Regions from separate parts of the Homo sapiens genome. Here regions 1 and 3 are each linked to region 2. The links come from fine-mapping of genetic effects on gene expression. A gene starts in region 2. Each other region holds a variant in brackets. All regions are shown on one strand. Distances are from middle to middle.

Region 1 (4,153 bases), 150 kb after region 2:
AAACAAGGTCTTTTAGTGTAAAAACACAGCTCCAGGGCTTGGTCCCAGGGGACTCCTTCTTGGCACTGCTGCTGCTCCTGGGCTACTGCTGCTGGGGGGCCACTGAAGTTCCAGATTGGGCAGGAAGATTCTGCTCTGAGTTCTCTCTCTTCTCTCTTCCCTTGAGCCTCCTAAGGGCCTGCCCAAAGCTTCCATTTCCAACAGGAAAAGCAATGACTTGGCATTTGGAGGCAGCCATGAGACCTCCAGGCTGTCTTTGTGTTAGGCCTGTACCCTGACGAGGGATCACTGTCCTCATCATCATCTCACCACTCACCAGCAACGTGGAGGTAGCCGCAGCCTTAGCCACTGGGCCCTGGGCAAAATAGGCCCTCACCTGGAGTCTGGGCTCAGAGCCTAGGGATAATAAGAGTATTTCTGATTATAGAAAGACCCAAGGAGGAATCCTAACAAGACTGCACCACAAGTCCTTGTCACTCATATTAGAGAAGGTTTAGGAACCATCAGTGGACTAAGCATGTGCTCAGACCAAGACCTGGGCTCCATGGCAGTAGCTGTCAGCTCAAGGAGTCCAGTGTTTACCGACTCTCACCTACACTCATGCATGGACAGCAGCAGGTTAGCCCACTCACCTGGAGAAATGGGCTGAGGCTCCTGGAGAACCAGAATTAAAAGGCAACTACCGAGAATCCATTTGGAAGGACTCAGTGGGAGCTGTGTGTACAGGCTTACCCTTCAGAGGCATGCAGAGGGTTCCCAGGTAACTGCTCCCAAGTGTTAGTAACATCGCCGTTAAAACACGAGTCCTTTAACTGTAGAACCCACAGAGGTGAAGGTACAAAAGAGAGAGGCAGGTCACCCAACACAGTTTGCTGACTGCAGTCCTGCTAATCCTCAGGTCACCAACTGCTATTTCCCACAGTGCTGCTGCTGTCTCACTGGTCCTCATTTCTCTTTCTGTATCAAGACTTATCCTAACCATAACCTCCTCCCTGAGGTGGGCTGGCATAGAGGTAAACTTCAAGCCAGGGATCCAGGCAAACCTGGGCTCACTTCGTGATTCTTCCTCTTCTGAGCAAAGTGACTCTGGGCAAGTCATTGCTGCTCCCTGAGCTTCTGCTTCCCCTTTTGTTCCTTAAGGTCTTGAGTGAATGAGACTGTACATGTTCAGCTTAGTGTAGGACCTGGAATACAGTGGAAGAAGGTAAGGGTGGAGGAGAGAACTGGGAGTCTCGTTCCACTCTGTGCAGAGGAAGGAAGCCTCTGTGCCTAGAATGCAGGGGCGTTCTAGACTCTCCTCGCTGCAAGCTGTGGGTGGTAGGACTGTGAGCGCAGCAGGGCTGCGGAGGGAATTGCAGAGCAGCTGAGGGCAGCACAAAGTCAGAGTGAGTTAGCACTGGTCCCAGGGGTTGCACGAGCAAGGCAGGCTTTTACAGAGATATCCAGGGAATAAGAAATACCAGCAAGGAAGTTGCCCCATTAATAAATAAGAAGGTGGGAAATTAATGATGGTCTGAAAATGGCTGAGCTGCTGAACTCATTCTTTAAATCTGTCTTTAACAAGAAAAATAAAGAAAAGAGATTTGGCCAATTAGGAGGTAATGAAGACATTGTGGAAATAGCACCTGACAAAAGCGCACATGCGGGGAGGGGCTGAATGAGCTTCCAGAGGCCTGGACGCCCCTGCCCCTCACTGGACAGAAGGAGGGTGCCAGTGGAGGGGCCTCCTGCTTACAAGCAGGGAGGGTGGAGGATCGTCCAGGGCCTGGGAAGGGACGACGAAGAAACAAAGATGGGGAGACTCCAAT[C/G]TGGGCTTAATGGATGTTTTTCAAGAACCTGTTGTGAGCCTGGGCAGGATGCTCCACATTCTCTGACACTGTCTCCTGTGAAGGCTGAGAATGAAGGTGAGGAACTGGGGGATAAAAGGAGAGCAAGAATGGGGGCAGATGTAGAAATAAAGGGGACCCAGGAAAGGAGGGATCTCTGGGGGATGGGAAAAAGCAGAAAGGCCCTGCTCAGAACTACAAAAAGCTTAGGCCCCTGACATCTAGGATGGTTCCTTCTAGGGAGTTTATACCTAGAAAAAAATTAAGAGAAGGAAATAGGAGATGAGGCATGGAAAGGAAAGAGAAAGAAGTCAAGAGGAGAGACCTGGAGTCTAGAAGAGGAGAGGGCAAGGTAACACATGGAAGAAGGAAAATTGGAGTCAGTGTCTAGGCAGAGCTTAGGAAAGGAGCCAGGGTGGCTCCCACCCAGGAGGAAAAAGAGCCATTCTGCTAAGTTCCAGACAAACCACACTGCTTGCCACACTGACCTAACTCCGGTATTCCACTGAGGTCCAGGTGGCCCTCCCTGTGAGCAGAATAGCAGATTCGGTGAGGTCTTGAGTAAGGGAGTGAGAATACAGGTCCAATCTAACCCCGGCCCTACCCCTTCTTAAACACAAATGAACCTGGTCCCATGGCTAGAAAGGGGATCCAGTGCTCCCTTAGCCTTCCCCATCCTTTCCCAACCAGGGCCTACGACCTCCTGCTGCCCCTGGGTGAGGCTCCAGGGTTTGTCTCCAAGTGTGGTTCCAGAATTCAATCCAAAGTGGCTGGGCTGTAACCCTGACATGGTCTGTGGTGGAGGGGAATAGGGGGGGCCATGAAACTGCAGAAGAAAGAGAGGGCAGCTGGTGATGAATAGGGGCAGCCAGAGGCTTGTTAGAGAGGGGTGTGGAGAAGAAGGCCACTGCAGGGATGAGCCCTGGGCCTGATTTATCATCTTCACAGCTGATCTGAGCAAGAGGGGTTAAGTAGCAAGTTAATGAAATCTACAGATGCTGCTAAATGGGGGAGAGCTGGGAGCACCAAGGCTGGAGGGGATACCAGGCAGGACACAGGCAACAAGTTGGCCACCAAAGAAAGAGGTTCTTCTGGAGGGGAGAGACAGTCAACATATTCCAGCTGAGGGAGAGATCCTGTCTTAGTCTCTGAAATCCAGTTTTGGCAAACCACGGAGAGAGAAGTTAGAGATCAGAATGCAGGAAGAACCAAGGTCGCATCCCAGAGATGTCCTCAGCCAAACTTCACAGCCCCCGCTCCAATCCCAATGGGCTTCGTCAAACACTGGGCAGCCCCCGAGCCCTAGAGACAAGGAGGTGAATCAGACCAGTCTCTGCCGTCTCTTCTCCCAGACTGAGTGGTGAAACAAGTAACTACAGTTCTCTGCGATAAGTGCTGTTCAGCAACACAAAGGAGGGAGCAATTCATCCTGACAGGGGAGGGCAGGGAGGTCAGGATGACATTAAAGCAAGGCTTGGTAAGTATGGATTTCACCAGGCAGACAAGGGGAAAGGGGGATTCTGGGCAGAAGGAACAGCATGAGCCAAGGCCAGGAAAAGAACAAGGGAAGCTGAGGGGAAGGAGCTGACCTGGTGGAGATGCCTGTTCAGGCAAGGAAACGGGCAAGGGAAACCAGCCCAAAGCTGCAGGCAGGCCAGAGCAGCAGGTCCTGCAGTGGTCTGGCTGTGTAGGACAAGTGAGGCTGGGGGAGTCAAGGGGCAGCAGAATCCTTCCCGAAAGAGCTGCGGCTGCATGTCAACTGCATTCTCCACCTCCAGTGCTAGCGCAGGGCCTCCATTGTAGCGTTGCCCCAAGGATGAAAGAAAATCGTTCCTGTATAGGGTTTGACACAAGGCCTGGCATACAGTAAGTGCTGACTAAATGTAAGTGTTTTTTGGGTTTTTTTTTTGAGACGGAGTCTGGCTCTGTTGTCCAGGCTGGAGTGCAGTGGCATGATCTTGGCTCACTGAAACCTTTATCTCTCTGCAACCTTTGTCTCCCAGGTTCAAGCAGTTTCTCCTGCCTCAACCTCCTGAGTAGCTGGGACTACAGGCACACGCCACCACGCCCGGCTAATTTTTTTTTTTTTTTGTATTTTTTAGTAGAGATGGGGTTTCACCATGTTGGCCAGGCTGGTCTTGAACTCCTGACCTCAGGTGATCTGCCTGCCTCAGCCTCCCAAAGTGCTGGGATTACAGGCATGAGCCACCGCACCCAGCCTAAATGTAAGTGATTATTATTGTGGTGGTTAATATTCCCAGGCTGAATTAAAAAACCTGGCCCATGGGTCTGACTGCAGCTCCAAATGCACCCAGGGAGTGGCAGAA
Region 2 (4,126 bases):
CTTAAGGAATAAATAACTCTTAGAAAACTAAGAAGAATGTTCCTTAATTTGGGAAAGAGTATATACAAACAACCTGGAGCAAATGTTATGTTTAATAGAAAAAATTTAAATGCGCCCCCCTTAAGATCTGGAAAAAGACAAGGATGCCCACGACCACACCTGCTGTTTAACCAATTACTGGAGGTACTGGAAAATGCTAAAAGAAAAAGAAATAAGGGGTATAAATTGAAAGGAGGGGATAAACTTGTCATTATTTGCAGATAACATGGTCATCTTTCTCTAAATATCTGGAATCCATTGCCACTGCTACAACCTTAGTTCAGTTTCCCAACACCTCTAACCTAGATAGTCACAACTGCCCTCTAGTCTCCTAAACTCTGGCCTGGTCCACCTTCCACAGCGCACAGTCTGCCTGTCTTTCCTTCTTCCTTTCCTTCTTCCCTTCATTCCTTCCTTTTATTATAGAAGAGGTACACATTCATTATAGAAAGTATAGAAAATATAAATTGCCAGATAAAAACAAGTGATGGAATCATTTCAGTTTAGTCCTTTCCAGAATTTTTTCTATGTATATACACATTTATAAAAAAAAGAGAGACCACTAACTTTCCCTGACCAGATTATGGAAAGCAGTTCTCCATCCCATCGCTCTATTTCATTTCCTTCCTAGCTCTTGTTACCATCAAAACTTACATTATCAATTTTATTGTCTATTTCCTTAGTGTTTCTCCTTCTCCACTAAATATAAGCTCCACCAGTAGCTATTTGTATCTCGTTCACCCACTGCATGCCCAGAGTCTAGAATAGTGCCTGGCACATACATTCCTTTATGTACTGTGATCCCTGTCTTCACAGAAATGAGTCTATTAGAGATATATATTAAACAAGTAATTACACAATTAATTAACTACAACTAGGGTCAAGTGTTTCAGGCAGCCAATTGCTCTCTCCCTTTCTGGCTCCAAGGACCATTTCCTTACCCTGTGGACAATTTCTGCTGTAAGACTGTGACTTCCTCCGGCAACTGTTTGGAGCTCAGTGGATCCATCCAGGAATCAGACCCAGGAACAGGTTTGTACCTCCAGGCCTAGTTCTCCAAAGTTTTGGGGACTAGTCAGGCTTGTGGCTACAGCTGTTGTATCCCCTTGTCTTCTCCAGGCCAGAACAGGCTACACCACTTATAGCTAACTTGCGCAAACTGTCTGCTCCTCTAGTCCCTGCTGGTATCTTTGGCAGGTCTCGACTTGGGGTCTGGCCTTCTTAATGCCTTAACAAGCCCCACCCTATCCCACAGGCTATGTGTCCTTCAAATTGACAGGCTGGTTTGCAGACTGCTGAAGCTGGGAGCTGCTTTCCTTGTCCCTTGTGCCCTTCCTCAGGACCTCCTGTCTCTCTCTTTCCAGGAAGATCCCCAGGTTTATTCCCTTGAGGGATACTTCTAAGCTGGTTCCTGCTTGGGGCTGTGTTTTGGGCTTCTTCGTAGCCCAAAGAGTGCAGCTAGCTCCTGTACTAGTGAAGTGCCACGAAGCTGGCCTCCAGGAAATCCCCACGAGGCCACAACCCACAGCTATCTCCATCAGAGGAGGTGCAAATGAGGGCCCACACCTTACTCCATTTTGGCAGCCGCCCTAGGAAGCTCTGCCTTTATTTCTTCATCTTCAAGCTTATCACAATTTGAAGTTTATCTCTTCACCTCCAAGCTTAGCACAGTGCCTAGTACATATTAGCACTTAATGAAGAGGGGGCAATTCAAATCATTAACTCATTTAATAAAAAAATAGTAAATGTCCCACGCACCGTGCTAATGTTTTACAAGGATTCTTGGTATTTCATTTACACAGGTGCCATTACAATTTCCATTCGGCAAATAAAGAAAAAGGTCCAGAGAAATTAAGTGACTTCCCAAAGTCACAAAGTTCTGGTATCTCTTCACTGCCTGAGACGCAACGGAGCATCGTAGAGGGAAAATGCCAGAAAGCAGGCAGTGCACCAATGAAAACAGGCTCGCGGGAGAACCAAAGGGTGGCAAGCTCAGCACGGCCAGTAGCTTTCACCCTCGGTTGCCAGTCGGCTTCGTTTCCTACAACACCGACCGGAAGTGTTTCTGTCGGCCGCGTTCCGAATGAGCACCGCCGGAAGTTTCTGCCGCGGCTTTGCGGGGACGGGGGAGTGGTAGTGGGGGCTGCAGCTGCCGGACCCAGGTGCGGAAGTGCGAGGGCCCAGGTGGCTGAAGGGGCCGTTAGGAACATCCAAGCGGTGGGGCACAGGCAGATCCCCGACCTGACCTGGACCACCCTTCTCCTCTTGGCCCGCCCCTTCAACTCGCCTCCGCTTAGGTCTGGATTGGCCCCGCCCCCTGACCTGAGCCTGGTCCTTCTTCAGGCACTGACCCTTGACCTCCGGTGGCTCCCCCATCTCTCAGGCGCGATGGCTACGGGCGCGGATGTACGGGACATTCTAGAACTCGGGGGTCCAGAAGGGGATGCAGCCTCTGGGACCATCAGCAAGAAGGACATTATCAACCCGGACAAGGTAGCAGGGGCACCTGAAAGCGTTGACTAGGGGAGGGTAGGGGAGTGAAGATGGGGAGGAGTGACAACGGGCAAGGGATGGGTGCTACACTTACAGTGAGTTGGGCGATAAAAGGGGTGACATAACAGGACAGGGAATATGTGTCATCCTTGATGGGAGGGAGGAGATGGGACATCGTGGGAGATGGTGGGACCAAGAGGGTATGACACCTCTAAGAGCTGAGAGGACCAGGCAAGTGTGATTTTTGCAAGATATTGTTGGGGAGAGATCAAGACATTGTAACAGTCTGAGAGTTGGTGGGATGGGGAGGGGACTGCTCTGATTTGGGCGTAGGATGGTGTTCCTGGGAGTGGGTTTCTGTGCCTTTACAGTGTGTCAGTTTGCCTGTCATTGACCCTGTAGGTGCTGCTTTGTTCAGGGATTGAGCTGGACTAAAGAATTTTCAGGAAAGGGTCTAGGTTGTGGTTCCTTTCTGTGGTTTCCTTCCTCAGAAAAAATCCAAGAAGTCCTCTGAGACACTGACTTTCAAGAGGCCCGAGGGCATGCACCGGGAAGTCTATGCCTTGCTCTACTCTGACAAGAAGCAAGTATTGGAGTCCCAAGTCCCCCAGGTTTTGGCCCCTGATTCACCTGCCATGCCCCTAACTCCTAGTTTTCTCTAACAATTTTCTCCTCCCCAGCAAGGGCTCCTGCTTGCTTAGCAGGATGCAGGAGGACCTGAAGTCTTTTGCTCCAGGACATGACTTTCTTGCTATAGGGTAGGGTAGATCAGCTCCCTGGGACAAAAAGCTCTTTAACACACCTTCTGATTCTAACCTCGCATCTCCCTAAACCTCCCTGCCAGGGATGCACCCCCACTGCTACCCAGTGACACTGGCCAGGGATACCGTACAGTGAAGGCCAAGTTGGGCTCCAAGAAGGTGCGGCCTTGGAAGTGGATGCCATTCACCAACCCGGCCCGCAAGGACGGAGCAATGTTCTTCCACTGGCGACGTGCAGCGGAGGAGGGCAAGGACTACCCCTTTGCCAGGTTCAATAAGGTAAGCTACCTTCATTCGGACACAGGCCAAGATTGCCCTCCCACTTTGAGCCATTTGTGCGAGCTCTCCAGTCTCCTAGGGTTGGTTCTGGGGGCACGCTTATGCCCAACTGTGATTACCCACTCAATCCTCGTGGCAAATGCATGCAGAGTAGGACTCTGTGGGTCTTTTCTGCCCAAGGGATCCTGTTCTTTCCCGGACCTGCTCTGGTTTTTCATGGCTTTTCTTGGTCTTTCAAATGTTGCTGTTCCTCAGAGCTGTATCCTAGGTGCTCTAGTCTTCTTGTTCTCTACTTTCTTAGTATGAACCCTGTGGCTTCAGTTACCCTCTCTACAAGTCACCAATCCAGAGCAGTGCTTCCTTCGCATCCAGTCATTTACTAATATCTCTTTCTCAATGCCCCACAGGTACCTTACATCAGGTAGGTACCCTGAACAGAGCTCATCATCTTCCCTCTGTCAGTCCCAAATCTGTTCCCCATCTCAGTGAATGGCACTATCTTCCACCCAGTTGCCCAAACCAGAAACTTGGGGGATCGTCCTTGACTTAGTCTT
Region 3 (4,153 bases), 21 kb after region 2:
GAGGGAAGAAATATAGCTTTACTAAGAAAGGCATTCTATGAGTATGGCTTGCAATATAAGTTGACTAAACACCCCTCAGTTCCACAAAATCATCAGACTATTCAGACTTCTTCTTTCTTTCTGCCCTGCCATTCTCGGCATGTGGTTTCCAATCCTCAGACTATTTCATAGTCCAAAATAGCTGCTGGAGCTCCAACCATCAAATCCACATTCCAGGAAAAAGAAAGGGGGAAGACGGGAAAAGGCAAGAATAGCGTATTTCCCAGATGAGCTGTTTCCCTTTAGGTATCATTCCTGCAAGTCCCAGACAACACATTTCCTTTTGTTTCACCGGCCAGAGCTCAGAGACATGGCTGTACCTAGCTGTCTGGAAAACTAAAAACGTAGTCTTTTAACTAGGTACACACTGATTATTATACAGCGGTTCTATAATTATACAGGGGTTCTATTTAGTGAAAAAGAAGGGAAAAGTCATAGTTTCTGTCCTAGCAACGTAACTGACATGTCTGCCTTTGGAGCCTGGATTGCATGGTCCATCATTTCAGTCTTTTTCTTGCCAATCCTCAACTCTCTTATTCCCTTTTCCTTGTCACCCTTGCCTGGAAAAACCCAGACTCTGCCTTCTCTGTGCCTGCCACCTGGAGCGTATGACTAGAGAAAATCACAACCATATAGACTAGTGCCACTTACAAAATCAGAGTCATCAGCCTCAGCTGGGTATATAAAACTGCCCAGCCAATCTCCAGTGTTCCTGATCAGTGTGCACTCTCTCTCCCTTCACCCATAGTGACAATTTCAAGTTTCTCTACTTTCCACAAATCTCAAATCCCCTGCCCTCAACATCACCCCAAACCCCTCACCCATGCAAACAATCTTATCTCCTACTCCACAGGAGCCACACAGAAGCCACTCTCCTGAGTTTGCCCCAGTCCTCTCCTCCTGTCACAAGAGAGGGCCAAGCCTGATGTCACGTTCTTTTTTTTTTTTTTTTGAGATGGAGTCTCACTCTGTCGTCCAGGCTGGAGTGCAATGGTACGGTCTCGGCTCACTGCAACCTCTGCCTCCCGGGTTCAAGCGATTCTCCTGCCTTAGCCTCCAGAGTAGCTGGGACTACAGGCTCTTGCCACCACGCCCAGCTAATTGCCTGATGTCACTTTCTAAGCCCATCCCTCCACTCCAGCTGGGTAGGGTCCAACCCAGAATCCAGGCCTTTTCAGGGTCCACACATTATTGAGTACTCCTATTTCCACTGATACAGCTTCACTTTTTTCTTCTGCATTGGTTCCTTCACATAAGCATGTAAATATATTAATTCTCTCCCATCTTGGGAGTAAACAAGTCTCCCTTTAACTCCCTTTTCCATTGGCTAGTACCCAATCTCTCCTCCCTTTTAGAGGCAAACTTCAGAGTTGTTTACACTCAAGATCTTATTTCCTCATCTCCCACCTTGCGATCTGATCACTGCTCTACCAACACTGCTTTCTCTAATGATCCCTATGACTCATGAGGATGAAGCTTTTCAGGTTTTGATTGATAGACAATTGGTGAACAATCCACTCCTTGAAGCTCTCTTCCCTAGGCTTCAGTGACCCACTCTCACTTTTCATGCAATTCTCCTTGGTTCCTTTGAACACTCCCTTTCTTTTGATCACCTCTTAGATATGGATGTTGCTCAGAACTGTCATTGGTCTCTTCCCTTCTCACTCTCTCTCCGTGGGCAAACTTATCCCCTCCTGGAGCTTTAA[T/G]TACCATATATTTTCCAATAATTTCTAGGAGCTTTAATTACCATATATTTTTCAATAATTTCTAAGCCCATGTTCCCATTACCAACATCCTGGTCCAGGCCACCATCATCTCCCATCTAGGTAACGGCAGTGCCCCTGCCAATCTTTCTTCCATGGTGTCCTTTTAAACCACCAATCTGGTCATTTCACTCCCTGTCTTAAAACCCGGGCTGGGCGTGGTGGCTCACGCTATAATCCCAGCACTTTGGGAGGCTGAGGTGGGCAAATCACGAGGTCAGGATTTCGAGACCAGCCTGGCCAACATGGCGAAACCCCATCTCTACTAAAAATACAAAAAATTAGCTGGGCGTGGTGGCACCTGTAATCCCAGCTACTCGGGAGGCTGAGGCAGAACAATCACTTGAAAACAGGAGGCGGAGGTTGCAGTGAGCCGAGATCACATCACTGCACTCTAGCCGGGGCAACAGAATGAGACTCTGTCTCAAAAAACAGCAACAGCAACAATAACAACAACAAACCCTTCAATGAACCTGGAGCAGAAAAAGAACATTAATGGAAACACTGGTGAAATTAAAATAAGGCTTTTGAGACAGGGTTTCTTTCTGTTGCCCAGGCTGGAGTGCAGTGGCGTGATCTCAGCTCACTGCATCTCCGCCTCCCAGGTTCAGCCGATTCCCGTGCCTCAGCCTCCCAAGTAGCTGGGATTACACGCGTGTGCCACCATACCCGGCCTAAGAGGCCCTTTAATGTAGCACAGTACCAATGTTAATTTTCTGGTACTGATAACTGTATTGTGATTATGTAAGATGTTAACATGAGGGAAAGCTGGGTAAGGGATACATAGAAACTTTCCTACAAATGTAAAATTAATTCAAAGTAAAAAGTTTAAGAGTCAAAAATTAAAACCACCACCACCAGCACCACTTCCAGTGGCTCCTCACTGCTCTCAGGACTGCTCAGCTAATCCCCATTAAGTTCAATATTGCCACCTTGCCTGACTCAGCTCCCAATGCATCCAAACCCCTTTATAAAAGTCTGAGTTCTGGACCTGTTTACATCTCTGGTCTCATCAGTCCCACTCCCCTGTTGTACAGCCAAATTCAGGCTCATTTGCACCTTGAGTTTTCAAGTCCTCACTTCTCACCTGGCTCATTGCCTTCACCTCTCAGGACCCAGGCTTGCTAGTGCTTCCTCTAGGTGCCTTCCCCCCATCCCGCCTTTGTGTTAGGAACCTCTTCTGTGTGCTCCCACAGCAGCCAATTCTCCGCCTATCGTAACTGCCTCTCCTTCACCTCCTGCTAGACCATGAACTCTTTGAGGGCACAGGTGTTATCCACAGAGACACTCAAGAAATACATACTGAAAAGAAGGAAGGAAGGACTAGAGGAAAAGAAAGAGGGGCAAGATCACACGCAAACCTACTCCAGCCCTGACATTTGCCACCCAAAGCCTTGACATGCCCAGGCCCTGAAACCCTGTCATGGTCTTTGTCTCCAGCTTCCAAAGCCCTGAAGGTTTCAGGCCCTTCCCCACCTCCGTTCCCTTCTAGCATCTTGGTTTCCCCAGGACTTCACTGTGCCAGGAGACTGGCTAGGACCTGAGCTCTCATCTGTCTGGCCAGCCTGTCCTGCAAACCCAGGCAGTCAAGGGTGGCAGTGGTGGTGCTGGGGCGCCCCAGTCCTAGCCAGTGATGCCCTGGAGAAAGGCCTAGCTATGCCTAGGGACTCTGGGAAGGGGGGATGCCCTCCCTAAGCCGTGTCCCACCTGGTAAATATTTCATCCTCAAGCTGCTCAGCTAATCCCTATTAATTTCAATACCGCCGCCTTGCCTGGCTCAGCTCCCAATGCATTATTTATCCCCTTTGTTTGTTTGTCGCTAACAGGTGGGCCCCAGTGGAGGCACTGACTGGGGACAAGCCCACTCTATCACAGTGTGGCTGTGAATTAATCATGAGGACTAATGGGAACCACCTCAGCTCCAGGCACTTCCCTAGCTGCCTCCCCCTGCCCTGGCACCCAGGGGTGGGCCAGGGCCATCTCAACTCAATTTAACTCAATTCAAACAGCACATTTTATTTACTATCTGCCTATACGTGTCAGACACTGTGCTATGCTTTGGGGATATAAGCCAAATGAAACAGACATTTCTTGCCTTCAGGGAACTTACAATCTAGTGAGGGAGACAGGCATTAAACAACTTTCAAACAAATAATTTCTTAATTACAACTGTGATTAAATGCTACAAATGGGGAGAGCAGGGTGCTGAGAAAAAGTACACGGGGAAAGGGGGACTTGATCAAGTCTAGGAGTCAGGGAAAGCATTCCTGAGGAAGCAAACTTTAAGCTGAGCTCTGAGGGATGAGGAAGAGTTAATTAGGTTGTGGGGTGGAAATATGGGGCTCTGGGGG

Which allele goes with the higher level. Positions count from the first base shown, and alleles are read on the strand shown. Sizes are in standard deviations (SD) of each study's normalised expression. Not every link is listed here.
As copies of T replace G in region 3, the expression in thyroid of the gene that starts at base 2,145 in region 2 goes down (small effect, 0.15 SD a copy in GTEx).

What was found. PIP is the estimated chance that this variant, and not a neighbour inherited with it, causes the effect. A credible set is the group of variants that fine-mapping cannot tell apart.
Region 1: its variant is the best candidate, but not a certain one, in a credible set for the expression of DMAP1 in whole blood (TOPMed, PIP 0.53).
Region 3: its variant is the best candidate, but not a certain one, in a credible set for the expression of DMAP1 in thyroid (GTEx, PIP 0.55).

What each region holds. Positions count from the first base shown.
Region 1 is chr1:44,365,468-44,369,620 of GRCh38, forward strand. No RefSeq gene overlaps it. Among named protein-coding and RNA genes, the nearest start is that of ERI3, 12 kb to the left of the region's middle. RefSeq lists an enhancer at 2,957-3,489. The variant C/G (reference allele first, on the strand shown) is at 1,809.
Region 2 is chr1:44,211,327-44,215,452 of GRCh38, forward strand. DMAP1 (DNA methyltransferase 1 associated protein 1) reads left to right here and starts at 2,145. Exons shown (of 10, transcript NM_019100.5): 1 at 2,145-2,532; 2 at 3,024-3,115; 3 at 3,377-3,572. The coding sequence starts at 2,428. RefSeq lists a silencer at 1,454-1,553 and enhancers at 1,951-2,245, 1,984-2,223, 2,989-3,490, 3,491-3,990.
Region 3 is chr1:44,232,431-44,236,583 of GRCh38, forward strand. The region is part of intron 8 of ERI3 (ERI1 exoribonuclease family member 3); the gene reads right to left. The region is part of intron 2 of ERI3-IT1 (ERI3 intronic transcript 1); the gene reads right to left. Among named protein-coding and RNA genes, the nearest start is that of ERI3-IT1, 9.8 kb to the right of the region's middle. The variant T/G (reference allele first, on the strand shown) is at 1,746.